Homo sapiens: one gene and its partner. The protein of the gene in region 1 binds, or shares a complex with, the protein of each later gene. Each region holds a gene or a part of one and is shown in the gene's direction. Other genes may lie near its edges.

What was found.
Region 2: the proteins of RILP (region 1) and RAB7A are in contact, whole or in part, in a crystal structure (PDB 1YHN), measured with the Homo sapiens proteins. Residues at the interface, in NP_113618.2 of Homo sapiens: Phe248 (codon at 7,223), Glu249 (codon at 7,226), Leu252 (codon at 7,235), Gln253 (codon at 7,238), Arg255 (codon at 7,244), Asn256 (codon at 7,247), Lys259 (codon at 7,256), Ala260 (codon at 7,259), Phe263 (codon at 7,268), Leu264 (codon at 7,271), Glu267 (codon at 7,280), Glu268 (codon at 7,283), Tyr271 (codon at 7,292), Arg274 (codon at 7,301), Glu275 (codon at 7,696); in NP_004628.4 of Homo sapiens: Ser3, Lys6, Leu8, Ile41, Gly42, Ala43, Asp44, Phe45, Leu46, Thr47, Thr58, Trp62, Ser72, Leu73, Val75, Leu182, Tyr183, Asn184, Glu185.

What each region holds. Positions count from the first base shown.
Region 1 is NC_000017.11:1,645,798-1,655,651, reverse strand, and holds RILP (rab-interacting lysosomal protein), read left to right. Parts: upstream 1-5,785; 5' UTR 5,786-5,847; coding exon 5,848-6,075; intron 6,076-6,146; coding exon 6,147-6,240; intron 6,241-6,345; coding exon 6,346-6,452; intron 6,453-6,607; coding exon 6,608-6,853; intron 6,854-7,156; coding exon 7,157-7,302; intron 7,303-7,694; coding exon 7,695-7,817; intron 7,818-8,662; coding exon 8,663-8,746; intron 8,747-9,032; coding exon 9,033-9,210; 3' UTR 9,211-9,502; downstream 9,503-9,854. Other genes in the region: PRPF8 (pre-mRNA-processing-splicing factor 8), read left to right, coding at 109-302, 1,636-1,875, 1,969-2,110, 3,864-4,004, 4,099-4,238, 4,342-4,544, 4,696-4,850. UniProt on the Homo sapiens protein: Rab effector playing a role in late endocytic transport to degradative compartments. Involved in the regulation of lysosomal morphology and distribution.
Region 2 is NC_000003.12:128,721,387-128,730,686, forward strand, and holds the start of RAB7A (ras-related protein Rab-7a), read left to right. Parts: upstream 1-4,796; 5' UTR 4,797-4,973; intron 4,974-9,300.

The sequences.
Region 1 (9,854 bases):
CTGTCTCAAAAGAAAAAAAAAAAATTCTTGGGTTTCATGAAAGGTTAGGATTAAAGTGGGAGAGCCTCAAGCAGCTGACCTACCCCACTCTTCCAAATCTTTTCCCAGGCCTTCTCCCGTCTCATCCTGATTCTGCGTGCCCTACATGTGAACAACGATCGGGCAAAAGTGATCCTGAAGCCAGACAAGACTACTATTACAGAACCACACCACATCTGGCCCACTCTGACTGACGAAGAATGGATCAAGGTCGAGGTGCAGCTCAAGGATCTGATCTTGGCTGACTACGGCAAGAAAAACAAGTGAGCAGTGCTGGTGGGGACACAGACAGGAGGTCTATATACGGTTTTCTGGGGTTTTTTGGAAGCACTTAGGCTTAGAAGTTTCTCAAGAAGGCCAGGCGCGGTGGCTCATGCCTGTAATCCCAGCACTTTGGGAGGCCAAGGTGGGTAGATCATTTGAGGTCAGGAGTTTGAAACCATCCTGGCCAACGTGGTGAAACTCCGTCTCTACTAAAAATACAAAAGTTAGCCGGGTGCGATGGCGCCTACCTGTAATCCCAGCTACTCGGGAGGCTGAGGCAGGAGAATTGCTTGAACCTGGGGGCAGAGGTTGCAGTGAGCCGAGATCATGCCACTGCACTCCAGCCTGGGCGACAAGAGTGAGACTGTCTCCAAAAAAAAAAAAAAAAAAGACGTTTCTCAAGAAATTATCTTGTCTTAGCCAGGCTTGAGTGCTCATGCTAGTAATACCAGCACTTTGGGAGGCCAAGGTGGGAGGATTGCATGAGCCAGGAGTTGAAACCAGCCTGATCAACAAGAGACTGACGCCATCTCTACCAAAAAAAAAAAATTTAAAACAGGTGTGGTGGTACACGCTTGTAGTCCCAGCTTCTTGGAGGCTGAGGCAGGAGGCTTGCTTGAGCCCGGGGGTTTGAGGCTGCAGTGAGCCATGATGATGCCACTGTACTCCAGCCTGGGTAACAGAGCGAGACTCTTGTCTTGAAAACAAGGAAAGAAATTATCTTACAGAGTCTCGAGGAAGAGAGATACAGCAGTGTCTTCGAATAGTATGGGAAGCATCCCTGTTTTAGGGCTTCAGTCTGACTCTTGGCCATTGTTTCTCACTGTTGCCATTTCAAACAGGGCATTTCTTTACTGTCCATACATGGGAAGAATTTTGAACATCCGAGACCCTAAGTATCCGAGACTGCTGCCAACACACACACACACCTTCCTCCCCTCGTCTCCCTCCCTGTCATCGTGGCAACCAAAATTATCCATAGGGTGACGGACAATACCACCTCTGATTAAGAACCAGTATTCTAGGGTTTCTGGGGTTTCCATTTCTGAGAACAGTTCCATGCCAGAGCATTGTTTTGGTCAAGGAAGCGTAGGGTTTATGGATGCTAAACAGTGGGAAGGTGCACACGCAGTGTGCTGTCCCGCTTGGATCTGACGAATCTTGGAAGTGTTAGTGCACCTCCGTTTCACACTTCCTGTAGAAGCAGCTCTTGTGGATTGTCTGGGGCGTGAGTATAGGCTGTCCTGTCCTACCAAGTTACACCCTTTCCATTGAGGCAGAAGTGACCAAGGGGAAGGGATCCTTGTAATATAACCCACACCATCCCCACAGTGTGAACGTGGCATCACTGACACAATCAGAAATTCGAGACATCATCCTGGGTATGGAGATCTCGGCACCGTCACAGCAGCGGCAGCAGATCGCTGAGATCGAGAAGCAGACCAAGGAACAATCGCAGCTGACGGCAACACAGACTCGCACTGTCAACAAGCATGGCGATGAGATCATCACCTCCACCACCAGCAACTATGAGACCCAGACTTTCTCATCCAAGACTGAGTGGAGGGTCAGGTACTGTCGGGCAAGAGGGTGGGGATGGAAAGGCCGGCTGCACTACCTAAGGTGCTGGGCTGAGCGATGCTGACACTCCCTGCCTGTTTTTAGGGCCATCTCTGCTGCCAACCTGCACCTAAGGACCAATCACATCTATGTTTCATCTGACGACATCAAGGAGACTGGCTACACCTACATCCTTCCCAAGAATGTGCTTAAGAAGTTCATCTGCATATCTGACCTTCGGGCCCAAGTGAGTAAGTGGACTCAGCTAGGCCACAGTGTGTGCCCAACTCATTTTGTGCCTAAAACTCAGACCTGAGATTGTCTGGAACTTGAGATGCTGGTTTCAAGATTCATGGATGAGTAATTATACAAGGATAGCCAAAACAACGAGGTGGGTTTTGGCCCCATGAGATAGCAAAAGCTGTGGCAGCTGAGAGAAGGTAGTAATTGTAGTATTGGCCTGATAGTATTTGGAAGAGAACAGATATGGTCAGAAACAAATTCCTGACCAGGTGTGCGTGCTGGCTCATGCCTGTAATCCCAACACTCGGCTGGGCACAGTGGCTAATGCCTATAATCCCAGCACTTTGGGAGGCCTAGGTGGGTGGATCACCTGAGGTCAGGGGTTTGAGACCAGCCTGACCAATATGGTGAAACCCTGTCTCTACTAAAAATACAAAAAATTAGCCAGGCATGGTGGCATGCGCCCGTAGTTGCAGCTACTAGGGAGGTTGAGACAGGAGAATTGCTTGAACCCGGGAGGTGAGGTGGAGCTTGCAGTGAGCCAAGATTGCATCACTGCACTCCAGCCTGGGCAACAGAGCAAGACCCCGTCTAAAAAAACAAAACCAAAAAAAACGTGGCTGTAGTCCCAGCTACTCAGGAGGATGAGGTTGCTTGAACGCAAGCAGTGAGCTTTGATGACCCCACTGCACTCCAGGCTGGGCACAGTGGCTCATGACTGTAATCCCAGCACTGTGGGAGGCCGAGGTGGGCAGATCTTTTGAGCCCAGGAGTTCGAGACCAGCCTGGGCAACATGACGAAATGGAGTCTCTACAAAAAAAAAAAAAAAAAACTAGCCAGGCATGGTGGCATACACCTGTAATCTCAGCTACTCAGGAGGCTGAGGTGGGAGGATCACCTGATCCTGGAGGGTGGTGAGTGTAGTGAGCTGAGATCATGTCACTGCCTGCTAGCCTGGGTGACAGAGTGATACCCTGCTTCAAAAAAGAGAAAAGATGCATAACTTTACTAGTGTATCAGGGATATTATAGTTTATAAAACATCATTTTGGGCCAAGGTGGGTGAATCACTTGAGGTCAGGAGTTCAAGACCAGCTTGGCCAACGTGGCGAAACCCCGTCTCTCTTAAATATATGAAAATTAGCGGGGCATGGTGGCATGTGCCTGTAGTCCCAGCTACTCAGGAAGCTGAGGCAGGAGAATTGCTTGAACCCAGGAGGCGGAGGTCGCAGTGAGCTGAGATCACACCACTGCACTCCAGCCTTGCTGACAGAGTGAGACTCCATCTCAAACCCACTATTTAGTGGCTGTCAGGTTGGCAAATTTGAAAAGATTGTTAATATCCTGTGTGGGTGAGTTTATAGTAAACAGATCCTCTTTCTTTCTTGGTGATAATGTAAAACTTAAAATAGCACCAAGTGCTGGTTTTCCAGATGTTTTCAGCTTGTGAAAATACACTGAGCTGCATGTGTGCTCATTTGCTTGTGAATACTATGCTTAATAATCAGCTGGGGAGCTTGTGAGCAGTGCAGATTCCTGGACCCCACTCAGGAGATTCTGATGTGGTAAGTCCGCGATGAGGTCCATGTCTAACATTTTGAACAAGCACCCCAGCTGATTCTGATACAGGGGGTTCTGATCACGTTTTAAGAAACTCTGTCCTCGTTCTTGGGGGAAGGAAGGAAACAGAGGGCTGGCAGCTCCAACTCTGACCTGGTACTAAGAAGAGTTTTGGTTCCTGACCCCTTTGTCTCCAGATTGCAGGATACCTATATGGGGTGAGCCCACCAGATAACCCCCAGGTGAAGGAGATCCGCTGCATTGTGATGGTGCCGCAGTGGGGCACTCACCAGACCGTGCACCTGCCTGGCCAGCTGCCCCAGCATGAGTACCTCAAGGTAATGGGGAGTGATGGAGCCTGGGAGTGTGGAAAAGCTGGTGCGATTCCTGTCTGTGGATGGGATTCAGCTCTGTACTCCTCTTTACCTATAGGAGATGGAACCCTTAGGTTGGATCCACACTCAGCCCAATGAGTCCCCGCAGTTATCACCCCAGGATGTCACCACCCATGCCAAGATCATGGCTGACAACCCATCTTGGGATGGCGAGAAGACCATTATCATCACATGCAGGTGGGCCTGGGCTCCTTGGGAGGAAGTATGGTGGGGCAGGGATTGCAGGCCAGGGCCCAGAACAGTGGCCTGAGCTGTTACTCTGTCCTCGTTCCTCCCCCAGCTTCACGCCAGGCTCCTGTACACTGACGGCCTACAAGCTGACCCCCAGTGGCTACGAATGGGGCCGCCAGAACACAGACAAGGGCAACAACCCCAAGGGCTACCTGCCTTCACACTATGAGAGGGTGCAGATGCTGCTGTCGGACCGTTTCCTTGGCTTCTTCATGGTCCCTGCCCAGTCCTCGTGGAACTACAACTTCATGGGTAAGTGGGAGGAGCCTGGGGATGTGGGGATAGCAGTAGGGATAAGGTGAGGCCATCGCCCTTTGCACTTGGGGCCTGGCTGGCTTGGAGGTGGCGCAGGCTGCATGAGGCAGGAGCCCTGTTAACATTGGCTGTTTCCTTCTCCCCGAAGGTGTTCGGCATGACCCCAACATGAAATATGAGCTACAGCTGGCGAACCCCAAAGAGTTCTACCACGAGGTGCACAGGCCCTCTCACTTCCTCAACTTTGCTCTCCTGCAGGAGGGGGAGGTTTACTCTGCGGATCGGGAGGACCTGTATGCCTGACCGTTTCCCTGCCTCCTGCTTCAGCCTCCCGAGGCCGAAGCCTCAGCCCCTCCAGACAGGCCGCTGACATTCAGCAGTTTGGCCTCTTTCCCTCTGTCTGTGCTTGTGTTGTTGACCTCCTGATGGCTTGTCATCCTGAATAAAATATAATAATAAATTTTGTATAAATAGGAGTTCAGGGGCTGGTTTGTTTTTTTTTTCCCCCCCAAACTCAAATTCTGGATTTAGGTCTAACAGGAGGCTGGACTGGAGCGGTTCACAGCAAGATGCTGGGCTCGGCTGTGAAGGGGGGAGTATGAGGCCCCCTTCCTATTCAGGGCTTTGGGGTAGATAGCCCCTGGACTCAGTGGAGACCTGAGGCAGGGCTGGGCTTTCACACTCCGCTGCCTTGACCACATTTGCTGCTTTTTCCACAAAACTACTTGGAAGCTCTCGCCTCCTTTCCACAGTTTTGGGAGCAGTTGCCCTTTCCCGGGTCTAGGAACTCTGTGGCTTGTGCTGAGCGGCTGCGGTGTCCAGCCCAGCCCTTTAAGCTTTCTGTGTCAGTCCTGGTCAGGAAAACAAGCACACAGGCAGGCAGTTTGTGTACAGCCGGGCGGAGGCCAGAGACCGGCTGCCTACCTGTCACCTCTCGCCTGGAGCGGGCCACTGCCAAGTTGGCCCCATGACTCCAAACGGGCGGAGCCTGGATTGGGCCTGTGGGGAGGGCTCCACTCAAGTGACCACTTGCAGCCCTGAACCTCAGCTCTTGGACGCCTGGCTGGAAGTTGGCTGTCTTGTTTCCTGTGACCTTGGGGGTGGAAAGGACAGAGCCCAGGCGACCTAGGGCACTATCTCCCTACCCCACGCCTTCTCCCTTCCTCGTTCCTCCCTACCCTTATCGCTTCTACCCCGCCCACACCGCCCTAAACGGCTTCCTGGGGCGGAACTGTTTCGCTTTTCCCCGTCCCAGTGGAGGGTGGGGTGGGGGGGTCGCAGCCCTAAGCCTCTGGGAGACATGGAGCCCAGGAGGGCGGCGCCCGGGGTGCCTGGCTGGGGGTCTCGGGAGGCCGCGGGGTCGGCATCGGCCGCGGAGCTTGTGTACCATCTAGCCGGGGCCCTGGGCACTGAGCTGCAGGATCTGGCGCGCCGTTTCGGGCCGGAGGCGGCGGCCGGGCTGGTGCCGCTAGTGGTGCGGGCGCTGGAGCTCTTGGAACAGGCTGCCGTGGGGCCCGCCCCGGACTCGGTGAGTCATGGCCCTCCCTTCGCCACCCACGGGGCCGGCAGGGCCGAAGCCTGAGACCCGGGTCTCCCCAGCTGCAGGTGTCGGCGCAGCCGGCGGAGCAGGAGCTGCGGCGGCTGCGGGAGGAGAACGAGCGCCTCCGCAGGGAGCTGCGCGCGGGGCCACAGGGTAAGCGCAGCCCCGGCCAGGGCAGGGCGGGTGACGACCTGCTCGGGTCCTCCCCTCCCTCCCGCGGGCCGCGCGCCGCCGCCGCTAAGAACGCCCCTTCCTCAGAGGAGCGCGCGCTGCTGCGGCAGCTCAAGGAGGTCACGGACCGACAGCGGGACGAACTCCGGGCGCACAACCGCGACCTGCGGCAGCGCGGCCAGGAGACCGAGGCGGTGAGGGCGGGGCGGGGCTCTGGGGCGGGGCGGGGGCGGAGCGTGGCAGGCGCTGGGCGGGGCTCCGGGGGCGGGGGCGGAGCGAGGCAGGCGCTGGGCGGGGCTCCGGGGGGCCCTCGGTGCCCCGCCCACCCCACCCTTTGCTCCGCTCCCAGTTGCAGGAGCAGCTGCAGCGCCTCCTGCTGGTGAACGCTGAGCTGCGGCACAAGCTGGCGGCCATGCAGACCCAGCTGCGCGCCGCGCAGGACCGCGAGAGGGAGCGCCAGCAGCCTGGCGAAGCCGCGACTCCGCAGGCTAAAGAGCGAGCGCGGGGGCAGGCCGGGCGGCCCGGGCACCAGCACGGACAGGAGCCCGAATGGGCGACCGCCGGCGCAGGCGCCCCAGGGAACCCTGAGGACCCGGTGAGTGCCGTATGAGGGCAAGGACCCAGCCCAGGACGCAGCGTCCAGCCCTCGGTGGGCACTCAAGCAAGGTTTGCATGCTGCACAGCAGGTCGGCCAGGAAGCGGGGAGGTGGCAGACAGATCTGCGCCCCCGGCCGGCCTCGGCCCCCGCTCTCAGCTGGAGCACTGCTCTGTTATCTGTTAGGGCACCCTTGTCCCCCAAGTCTCCCGGCCCGTCACTTCCTCTAGCATTCCCATGATGGCCCTGGGGCGGGGGAACGCCAGCCGAGGCGACCCTCTGACTGTGCCTGTCCTTCCAAAGGCGGAGGCCGCGCAGCAGCTCGGGCGCCCCTCGGAGGCAGGGCAGTGCCGCTTCAGTCGGGAGGAGTTTGAGCAGATCCTTCAGGAGCGGAATGAACTCAAAGCCAAAGTGTTCCTGCTCAAGGAGGAACTGGCCTACTTCCAGCGGTGAGGACGCTGGGAAGCCGGGGGGCCTCCGATCACCCCACCTCATTCTCCAGTCATTGACATGTCCACAGTGACATGTGCCAGGCCTGCGCTGGGAACTGGGAGGACATGAATTGTACAGCCCTTGCCCTCCTGCAATGTCATCCAGACAGGGGAGAGGGACAGTACAAAGGGTTGCAGCTGCAGCAGCCAGGGAATCTCTCCTAGGAGGGGGCCACGGGGCCACCTAATTTAAGGTCTGAGGGTGTCAGCAAGGCAGAGCGCTTCCCGTGTTCAGGGAAGAGCTGCGTGCACAGGTACCAGGAGTGAGGACTGCGGCTGGCATCTCCACTGCTGGCATCCCCATGGCTGGCATCACCAGGGCTTTCTCCCTCCCTGCCCCTTTTCTTTAGGGAGCTGCTCACAGACCACCGGGTCCCCGGCCTTCTGCTCGAGGCCATGAAGGTGGCTGTCCGGAAGCAGCGGAAGAAGATCAAGGCCAAGATGTTAGGGACACCAGAGGAAGCAGAGAGCAGGTAGGTCCCTGCCTGCATTCCCACGGAGCCAGGCCTCCCTCCCTCATTCTGCTGAGCCTGATGACCCAGCCTGGTCACCCTCTGAGCCCATTGTCTCAGACTGAGGCTGTCACCCCAACCCGGTCACCCCTTGAGCCTCCCTAGCCTGGCCGCTTCTAGGGCCTGCTGACCTGCTCTGGCTGTGTCCCATGGCCGCTGTCCAGCCTGCGCCCTTCTCCCTGGATCTCACCACTCCCCTTGCCTTGCCTGCCATCCATTCTGCCTGACAACACTGCCTCTCCACATTCATTCTTCAAGTTCCTGTCTTGGCTGGGTCTGTTTATTCTTACGGGGGTGAAACTGTAGCCGCGGCTGTGTCAGGGCCTGCTGTGTGTCAAGCTATAAAATAAACCCTTGGCAGGGCGCGGTGGCTCACGCCTGTAATCCCAGCACTTTGAGAGGCTAAGGTGGGTAGATCACCTGAGGTCAGGAGTTCGAGACCAGCGTGGCCAACATGGTGAAACTCCGTCTCTACTAAAAATACAAAAATTAGCCGGGCATGGTGGCATGTGCCTATAATCCCAGCTACTCAGGAGGCTGCGGCAGGAGAATCGCTTGAACTTGGGAGGCGGAGGTTGCAGTGAGCTGAGATCGCACCACTGCACTCCAGCCTGGGCGACAGAGTGAGACCCTGTCTCAAAAAAAAAAAAATTAAAAATTAAAGGCTCGACATCCTGCATCTCCCCAGGGTTGCCTTCTCTCCAGCCCCGGGGGCCCTGCAGTCCCTCCATCCCCCCTGCTGGATTCCTGTTGTCCCTCAGGGCCTTGATCAATGGCCCTCACTTCTCCTCTCTCCTCTGTCTCAGTGAGGATGAGGCTGGCCCATGGATCCTGCTCTCCGATGACAAGGGAGACCATCCCCCACCCCCGGAGTCCAAAATACAGAGTTTGTATGTTGGGGAAAGGGGAAAGGCAAGAGTGTGGGGAGGGAGGAAGGGCCCTGGCTGGTCCTTCTCAGGATCCCCTTTCCCGCTTCTCTGCCCGTCACCCTGCTGTGCTTGGCTCTAAGCACACCGTCCCCTCCTGCTTCTCTGGCCCTGGCCCCCATCACCTTCACACTCCCTCAGGCTGCCCTTTCTTCCCCCTCTCCCCTTTTCTCACCATCCCCTGCCCTCACCCATATCCTTGACCTCTCTGGCTTCCTGGCTCAAAGTGCCTCTGGCTGTCTCTCTCCAGCTTTGGCCTATGGTATCGGGGTAAAGCTGAATCCTCTGAGGATGAGACCAGCAGCCCTGCACCCAGCAAGCTAGGGGGAGAAGAGGAGGCCCAACCACAGTCTCCAGCTCCTGATCCGCCCTGTTCTGCCCTCCACGAACACCTTTGTCTGGGGGCCTCAGCCGCCCCAGAGGCCTGACTTAGGGGTCTGGCTGTGGAAGGATGTGTGGCCTCAAATGAGGACAGGGCTCCCGCCTTCACAGCCCTCGCCAGGGGTCTGCCCCAATCCTGGCCTGCATCAGGGCAGGACGGGGTCTCAGCCCGCCTCCCTCTCTACGTCTCTGTACCGAGCCTCTGGGGCCAGATATAAGAGTGCCTCTCTGAGTCTCAGTTTCCCCATCCATGAAATGAGAGCTGACTGCCTAGCTCCCAGGGCTTTGTGCAGACGGCCTGAGCTCATGTAATAAAGAACTGCCCGTAATACACAGAAACTGTTCCTCGCCTGTCTGTCCATGTCTGTGCCACCTCCCAACCCTGCCAGGAGCAGAGGCAGGCTGAGGGGTCCTCGCTGGTCTCCTTGCTCAGTCACTGGGTGGGGTGGCTTCTTGCAGCTCAGGCCTTGCTTTGGGAGTGTGGCCTGATGGAAAGCCGTGGCTCCCAGCCTCAGTCCACCCCCTTCCCTGGCCCCGGCACCCAGGGACCTGCAACTTCATTCTTCTGGCCCTTCCAGGCCCAGGCCAGTCAGCCCTGCCATTGCCTTTCTTTCCCTTTCTTTTTTTGAGTGTCAGTCTTTCCAGCCACCCCCTCCCTCTCAGGGAGGTGCCTCGTGGCAGCCCGCCCCTC
Region 2 (9,300 bases), on another chromosome or scaffold:
GGGAAAATAGAAAAAAACCTATGTGACTATCGGGGGCAGGTTCCCCGATACTCTTCTGCATCTGGTTTTATCATGTAACAATATCTCTTGGAGATCCTTCCATACCAATATATAGAGAATTATCTTATTGCTTTTTTATAGTTGCACAGTATTTCATTGTCAAGATGTACCATACCTTTTTTACCAGTTCCCTATTGATAGAAATTTGAATGAAAATTGTGCAGGGACGTGTGTGTGTGTGTACGTTTGTACATTGTGTACCACACTAAGTAGTAAGGCTCTTGATATCAATGGCCTTGTTTTCCTTGTGTCCTTAGAACCTAACAAAAAGCCTAGCATATAGGAGATTCTCAGTAAATCGTTTGTTGAAAGAAGGATGTACTTGTCCACTTTCTCCATGGGCAATCCTGTTAACACCCGTTACTTTCATTTCCATCTACTCTTAAATTTCTATTTTCAGCTGAGGCTACCCTGAAGGACCCAGAAACCCAACTCCCATCTCTGCCTCAGCCCAAAATGTCTAACTGCCTCCTCCCCATCTCCACTTGGATGTTTCACGGAAGTCCTCTGTCTCAGCATTTCCAGAACTGAACTTCTCACTCCTAATCTCCTCCAACATACCTGCTGTGCTTTGGATATGATGTGTTCGTGCCCCCAAAATCTTATATTGAAATGTGATCCCAGGCCAGGTGCAATGGCTCACACCTGTAATCCCAGCACTTTAGGAGGCTGAGGAGAGCAGATTACTTGAACTCAGGAGTTTGAGCCCAGCCTGTCCAACACGGCGAACCCCGTCTCTACTAAAAATTCAAAAATTAGCTGGGCATGGTGGCAGGTGCCTGTAATCCCAGTCACTCGGGAGGCTGAGGCACAATAATCACTTGAACCTCATAGATGGAGGTTGCAGTGAGCCAAGATTGCTCCACTGCACTCCAGCCTGGGCAACAAAGCGAGACTCTGCCCCCTCCAAAAAAAAAAAAAGAAATGTGATCCAGGCAGGCTGAGAGTGGTGGCTCTCACGCCTGTAATCCCAGCACTTTGGGAGGCTGAGGGGGGCAGATCACTTGAGGCCAGAAGTTCAATATGGGCCTGGCCAACTTGGTGAAACTCCATCTCTACTAAAAATACAAAAATTATTTGGGCATGGTGGTGCACGCCTGTACTTCCAGCTGCTCGGGTGGCTGAGGCACGAGAATTGCTTGAACCCAGTGGGTGGAGGCTGCAATGAGCTGATAGCACCTCTGCACTCCAGCCTAGGCGACAGAGCAAAACTCTGTCTCAAAAAAAAAAAAAAAAAAAAGAAATGTGATTCCTCAGTGTGGAGATTTGGGAGGTGGGGCCTAGTTGGGGGTATTTGAGTTGTGGGGGGGTTCCCTCATGAATAGTTTGGTGCCATTCTAGGTAGTGAGTGAGTGAGTGAGTTCTGGCTCTGGTGAGGCTGGATGAGTTCTCACAGGAATTGATTAGTTCCCAAGAGAGTAGGTTGTGCTAAAGCCAAGATGTCCCTTGGATTTGGGCTGGGATTTCAGGCACGTGCCACAGCGCCCGGCTAATTTTTGTATTTTTAGTAGAGACGGGGTTTCACCATGTTGGTCAGGCTGGTAAAGACCAAAACACTTCTAATATTAAATATTAAAGTAAATGTGAACTATATATATATTTAAGACAGATTAATGAAAATGAGCAAGATAATTATTTATCCAATTATTCCATCTCAGGGTCACAGGTGGCCAGTCTATCCTGGCAGCTCAGGACAGGAACCAACCCTGCACAGGATGCCAGCCCATTGTGTACACGTGTGCGCACGTGCACACACACACACACACACACACACAGAGACTGGGACAATTCAGACAAGCCAATTCACCTAAAGGGCACATCTTTGGGATGTGGGAGGAAACCAGAGGAACCAAGGAAAACTCAGACATGGGGAAAGAGTGTAAACTACACAGACAGGGGCCCCAGCCAGGAATCAATTTTTTCTCATCAATGTTATAATTGAAATGATGTTACTGGAGGCCCTGCTCTACTTAACTCCCCCAAGAACCCTAAAAGTCTCAATCCCAATACATCACTGGCTCATAATGGATCTTGCCATGTAAATTGGGTCCAGATGTGGATGAGGTTCCTCAGATATAATTCCTTAAGAACGGCTCTGAGCACTGTTCCTCTGAAGGCCTGTGAGCTAGAGATGTTATCTGCTGTCCACGGACCCAGCATACAGAGTTGGCAAGAAGAAGATAAGCATAGTAGACACTTTTGTTCAAAAGGGGAAAAAACAGGAGCGACAGCTGCCACTGGGTCATAGTAATTCTGAAATCAGCGAGGCACGTGATGCCAGTTCCTTGATTCGAGTCCCCTCCTGCTCCTTGGGAATGATTATCTGCAGCTCCTGGCTCTATCCTCTTGGCTCATGGGTTTCTTCTAAGTTGTCCTTTCTTTCCCATAGGAAATAGTCCATGTTTGCATCTGAATAGCCTTCTCAGAAGGCTTCTTAGAAGGCTGGGGCCCACATGTCCCATTTTATTTTTGTGCTCTGCCTTTTCTGGTATAATTGTCCCTTGCTATTTGTGGTGGATTGGTTCTAGGACTCAGATGCTCAAATCCTGCAGTCAGCCCTGCCAAACCTGGGGATGAGGACTACTGCATTCCCAGTTGCTACTTTACCTTCAAACCTAGCATTTTGATTGGCTGCCTAACGGGGTGGAATTATCATAACTCTTGGCCTTTGAAACTATTTTCAGTTTTCATTCCCCTGAATACTCTGCAAATTGTACACATTGAGCACCTACTGTACCCCAACACTGTTTCAAGAATCAGGGATATCGCAGTGAATGAGACAGACAAAAATAGCTGCCTTGTGGAGCTGCCATTCTAGTGGGGAAGACAGACAATATGCAAATAAGTGAGTAGTATAAGAGGAAAAACTTTGGGAGGCTGAGTCGGGAGGATTACTTGACACCATTACTTGACACCAGGAGTTCAAGACTGCCTGGGTAACATAGTGAAAACTTCTCTTTACAAAAAAAAAAAAAAAATTAGCCAGCCATAGTGGTGCACGCCTGTGGTCTCAGCTACTCAGGAGGCTGAGACAGGAGGATCACTTGAGCCCAGAAGTTCAAGGCTGCAGTAAGCCCTGATTATGCCACTGCACTCCAGCATGGGCAACAGAGCAAGAACTTTTCTCAAAAAAAAAAAAAAGAAAAAGAAAATAAAAAAGAAAAAACAGAGGAGAAAAGCAGTAGGGAGATGTCAATTTTTGTGTTTGTATTGTGGTGACAGGGAGAGGGACTTCAGTTTTAAATAGGGAAGGCTATTTCACTGAAAAGGTTACTTTAAAGTCAAGACCAGAGGAAAGTGAGGGAGTGGCCAAGCAGATACCTGGAGGAAGAGCTTTCCAGGTAGAGAGAAGTACAACTGCAGAGGTCTGATGTAGATGTGTGCCTTCTCTTTTCTTTTTTGTTTATCTTTTGGAAGAGACAGTCTTGTTATGTTGCCCAAGCTGGTCTTGAACTCCTGGGCACATGCAAAGTGAAAGCAGAGAAAGAGTGGACTTACCCCAGAGGCGGATGGTTCTGCAGTGTGCAAGGCCATTTCAGAATACACATAGAGAAAACAGGAGAATAGGTGGTGAGGGTTTTGGGGAAAGAGCCAATTTTGGTTGAAAAAGTAGGGGAAACCCCAGACATTGTACCATCTCAGGGTTGAGACTGCTTGCCTAGCTTTTGAGATTTTTTTTTTCCCCAGACCCCTCAACTCCTGAGATCTTATCGGGAAGCTGCTGATCACCAGTTTTAGGTGTTTTTATCTATTGGGAGACTGCCTTTCTCTGGTCTGGCTGCAACCAATTATTATTTTAGAGAGACAGCTTAACCTGACAACCACGTCATGGTTGCCTCACATTGCTGGTCGGGGAGTGGCCCCTCTCCTGCCCTGCTCAGGTCTGACTACTTACTGTAACAATTGCAAGGTTTTTGGATGGAACAATTGAAAGAATGGAGCTTGCATGAACCAAAATAAGAAAAGACTATGAGAGGGCATTGTTGAAGATGGAGGCAAAAATTCTGAGTGGATCCTGATGTGTTCGGATGGGGCTGGTGCTTGGGAGGCTGCTCTGTGCTTACAAGAAGAGTTCTACCCGGTCCATCTTTATCACATCTTCTCTAATACTAAGTTCAGAGAGGCTTTAGCTCATTTTCCATTTTCTTGGGCTGTCTCCTCTGCCAGACAAAGTGCCTATTTCTCCTGTCTCTATCACCGAGCCACACAATTGCTGTAGTCATTTGCAGTCTACTAGAACGATAACACATATTGGCATCAGACAGATCTTGGTTCAAAACCTCGCTCCACCAGTTTCTGTGTTGAGCTAGACCAAGTGACATGATATACTGAGTCTCAGTTCCTTATTTGTAAAATGGTGATAATAATTTTTGGTTAAGTAATTAAAGTAAGGATAAATGATGCCTTTCGAAGAAGGACACAACTGGAATGGCCAGTTTACCCCTTGTCCCCTCTTCGGTGGCATTATTTATTCTGGAGTAAGGAGGGATGGCTGAGGGAATCTGTCTGTGGGTCCAACATGGCGCCGTCCTGCTCCTTGTATGAGCCTCAAAGATGGGGACAACCATTTGGGGGCAGACATGTTTGTAGCACGAGATCCAGGCTCAGTCCCGAGGCAGCCGGAACGTGACGCAAGGTTGAGGCGGGGCTCCTCCCCCGCACCCTGGCGTCGAGCGTCTCGTGACAGGTACTTCCGCTCGGGGCGGCGGCGGTGGCGGAAGTGGGAGCGGGCCTGGAGTCTTGGCCATAAAGCCTGAGGCGGCGGCAGCGGCGGAGTTGGCGGCTTGGAGAGCTCGGGAGAGTTCCCTGGAACCAGAACTTGGACCTTCTCGCTTCTGTCCTCCGTTTAGTCTCCTCCTCGGCGGGAGCCCTCGCGACGCGCCCGGCCCGGAGCCCCCAGCGCAGCGGCCGCGGTAAGCAGCGGGCCCAGCCCGGCCGGCGGCCTGGCCCCATCCCCCCCCTCAGCCCCTCGGTCGCCAGGGCCTCGCGTCCTCCCTGTCCTCCTGGGCAGGCTCCAGTCCCAGCCCTGGCCACGCGGGCACACCCGGCATCGCTCAGGCCCCCGGAGCAGGCCAAGACCCCACCCGGCTTGGAGAGGTCGGAGGTCGTCGGGCGTGACCTCTGGCCGGGTTGCCCGCCCCGGCCACCCGTCTCGGACGCTCTGTTTACTGTTGGCCTGGATCTCAGAGACCCGAGAGGGTTCCTTGACTTGGGCGGCCCTGCGCCGCGGCAGGACGCGCTGGCCAGTGGAGTTCCTTAGCGCGGCGAGCAGGAGGGTGTCAGAGCCCACGCCGCCCGCCGCCGTGCCCACCCGGCGGGCATGGGTCACAGGCGCTGGGGGCCGAGCCGCGTTCCCATCCGGTTCTTCAGTTGAACAGCCTGACCCTGTTAGTGGGAGTTCCCTGACGGCAACTGAGTCAAGGCAGTGAGTCAGGTCACGTGCGCTGGGCTCGCCTCGACACTTGTGTACATTGAGGCGCCTCTGGCGCTGGGAGACAGGGAGCTTTTTGTCCTAGGCATGTTACGGTAAATCCTGAGAGAAGTTTTTCAACTTAATCGAGGAAAGATGGTAGTTGGATGTAGAGTTGTGTTTCCATTCCGACCGTGTTTGGGGCCTCTTTCTGCATTCATTTTAGGCTTGATACCTAATGGGGTCATAAGGGGAATATTGAGAATATTGACAGCAAATATTTGAGCGTTTATTGTATGCTAGGCAGCGTGGCAAGACCTTTTAACAGATCATTATGTTTAGTTCTTTGAACAACCCTCTGAAGTACCACTGTTGTGCCCACTTAACACAGTGGGAAGTTGAACAGAGAGGCTAAGCCATTTGGCCAAGGTCACACAGCTAATAAGTTACGAAGCAGAGATGCAAGCCCAGGCAGTCAGACTCCAGAGCACTGTATTAAATTTCTAGGTTGTACTGCTTTCACGTACCCCTGAAGCTTGCTGGTTTATCTTTTGCTACCTGGTATCTGTACCTCAGTGCCTCCCACCACCTCCTTTCTTTCTATTGATGTCATTTGAAAGTCTTTCTGGTAGCATCAGTTCTCCCTTAAAGCCATAAGAAATGCCGTTTGCGACTTATCACACATATTGTGGTGTAGTGTCACCGAATTAGGAGCTCTTGAATACCGGCAGGGTACTTAACTGAGGTTTGAAAAATTTTGCAGGTAGGCCTGGCAAACCTGCCTAGTGAACCTTTCTTACAACCTTAGTTGATGGCTGTCCAGCCGGCTGGTTCTTCCCTATTCAAAATACTGCATCTTTGGTTTCCTAAAGAACGGACTCTTGTCTCTTTCTTGTGACTTAAGCAGCTGATGAAGCACATGATTTCTCATCCATGGATGAATAAAGTCTCCTCTTAGTGTGTTTCTCTCTTCAAACTTGGGAAGGTTTGTTCAGATTTGAGTTTAAGGACTGGAAGGTGAGTTAGGAGTACTTCTTCTGAAGAAGGGACCGGCTAAGTTAAAGCTTAGCGTTCACAATCCTGTTGTATTCATATTTGTCTTTTTTTTTTTTAACTTTGCTACCTAGCCTAAAATATTTAAGTGAGTAATAAGTACTGTGGCTTTATATAATGTTTGAGTTTAGAGTAATGATAGGCACCTTTTTATTCATTCATTAAGTATTTTGAGTATCCATTGAGTATCAGCAATGTATCAGGCATTGTGGGACATTGACTCAGGGAGATAGGCGTGGTTCCTGTCCTCAAGGAATTTTTAAAAGGTGAATGATCTTGGCCAGAAATTCTGTTGTGGAATAATTTGGCGGTAGAACTTGAGGCTTTTTGGAAAGAGTTATTTCTCATCTCTGCTGGTGAATCAGTAGTAACCCAAAGGATGGTGTTCTTCTGGCTAACTTTAAGGCTTTGTTAATTTTAACAACAGCATTTGTATGGTTTGCTCTTCAGAGAGTGTAGAAGATAATATTACAGTTTCTAATTAATCACATCTTTTAAAGAGTAACCTTCAACACTCAACTTGTTTCTCCTTTTGCTCTAGTGGCATTTATTTTATTTTATTTATATTTTGAGACGGAGTTTCCCTCTTGTTGCCCAGGCTAGAGTGCAATAGCGCGATGTCGGCTCACTGCAACCTCTGCCTCCCGGGTTCAAGCCATTCTCCTGCCTCAGCCTCCCGAGTGGCTGGAATTACAGGCATGCGCCACCATGCCCAGCTAATCTTGTATTTTTAGTAGAGACAGGTTTTCTCCATGTTGGTCAGGCTGGTCTCGAACTGCCTACCTCAGGTGATCCGCCTGTCTCGGCCTCCGAAAAGTGCTGGGATTACAGGCATGAGCCACTGCGCCCGGCCGACTCTGGTAGCATTTTTTTGTTCACTCAAGAGGTAGTCCATGTCACTACTGTAATTACCTTGCACTGCCATGTCTTTGAGCAAAGGTACATTTGGCATGCTGGATTTTTTTCTTCAGCTGGCAAGAAAGTTTAATGTAGCACTGATAGTGTACTGGCCATAGTTTCAGTACCATTCTACATAGAAAAGCTGTGTTACCCTATCTCCCACAACTTTCTAGATTCCCTTCTTTAAGGGAAGATTTGGATTTTACATTTGTGGTAGAACTGCATAAGTAAACAGAGGGTGGAATGTAGAAGATAGTCTAAAAATAGTTTTATTAGTATATCCTTCTAGGTAGTTAGCAACCACTTGGGGCAATTTTTTTTAAAATTTTTTTTTAGTGCCAACTGTGTCTAAGCTCACCAACCCTGTAATCAGAGAACAACTCTTTATAGTAAAGTGTGGCTTTGAATCAGTTTTCTGACCCCACTGCCAAGTGAAGCCAAAAAATTTTGGTTATTTGATTAGCTTTTAATATGTCTTCAGCTGGGCACGGTGGCTCACGCCTGTAATCCCAGCACTTTGGGAGGCCGAGGCAGGTGGATCATGAGGTCAGGAGATCGAGACCATCCTGGCTAACACAGTGAAACCCCATCTCTACTAAAAATACAAAAAATTAGCCGGGCGTGGTGGCGGGCGCCTGTAGTCCCAGCTACTCGTGAGGCTGAGGCAGGAGAATGGCGTGAACCCAGGAGGCAGGGCTTGCAGTGAGCAGAGATCATGCCGCTGCACTCCAGCCTGGGCGACAGAGCGAGACTTCTTCTCAAAAAAAAAAAAAAAAAAAGTCTTCAAAGGGATCTTCACTAATAACGTTTTTGCTCTTACTTTGGCATTAGACTTTGTAAACAAAGATGTAGCAAACACAGACCACGCAAATATGACAGTTGTCTTATGCACATTCCTCTCTGGCATTTGACACAAATATTTTAGTTTTTCCTATGATAAAGTATTTATCTCCCCATTCATTTAATTCAACAAATACAGCTGAGATAGATTTGACCAGATGTTGGACTTGGAGCTGTAGGCAGGCTTTTCCTGGGGAGGTAAGGATTAGAAGTCCTCCTGAATAAGGCTAAACAGAGGTTCCCCTTGGCATTAAATGTCTTCTTCTGAAGGCGACTGAAACTCGAGAAATGAACTCCCCGCCTCCCCCCTTATTTTTTGGCTATTGGCTTGCTGTTGATGATTCTTACCTCTCATGTAAGGAAGGCTACCATTGTATTCTCAGGCATCCATTCCTTTGTGTTACCACATGCTTATCTGTTAATATTATCTAATAGTTCTCTATGCTTCTCTGTCTGCAGTTTGCTGCAGAAACATTTTTGCAATATGCTGATCTTTTCAGTTATTTGCTCTTAAATCTTCTATTCTGTTTTTCCCCACACTCCATATGGCATTAAAGACAGAAAAATAGTTTGTGTTTTAAAACTTTTTTTTTTTTTTTAGACGGAATCTTGCTTTGTAGCCCAGGCTGGAGTGCAGTGGTGCCATCTCAGCTCACTGCAAGCTCCACCTTCCAGATTCATGCCATTCTCCTGCCTCAGCCTCCCGAGTAGCTGGGACTACAGGCACCCACCACCACGCCCGGCTAATTTTTGTATTTTTAGTAGAGACGGGGTTTCACCGTGTTAGCCAGATTGGTCTTGATCTCCTGACCTCGTGATCCACCCGCCTCGGCCTCCCAAAGTGCTGGAATTACAGGCGTGAGCCACCATGCCCAGCCTAAAACTTATTTTTAAAACATTTCTTAATGGTGGTGGTCACTGCGATTTGTGAATCAGAGGTAAAAGTGATGTGGCGAGTGAAATCAAAACAAGTTTTTTAGCAGTGTCTGTTACCAGTTTCAATTTTAGTATCCCAGGCTGTGATTACAAAAACATAT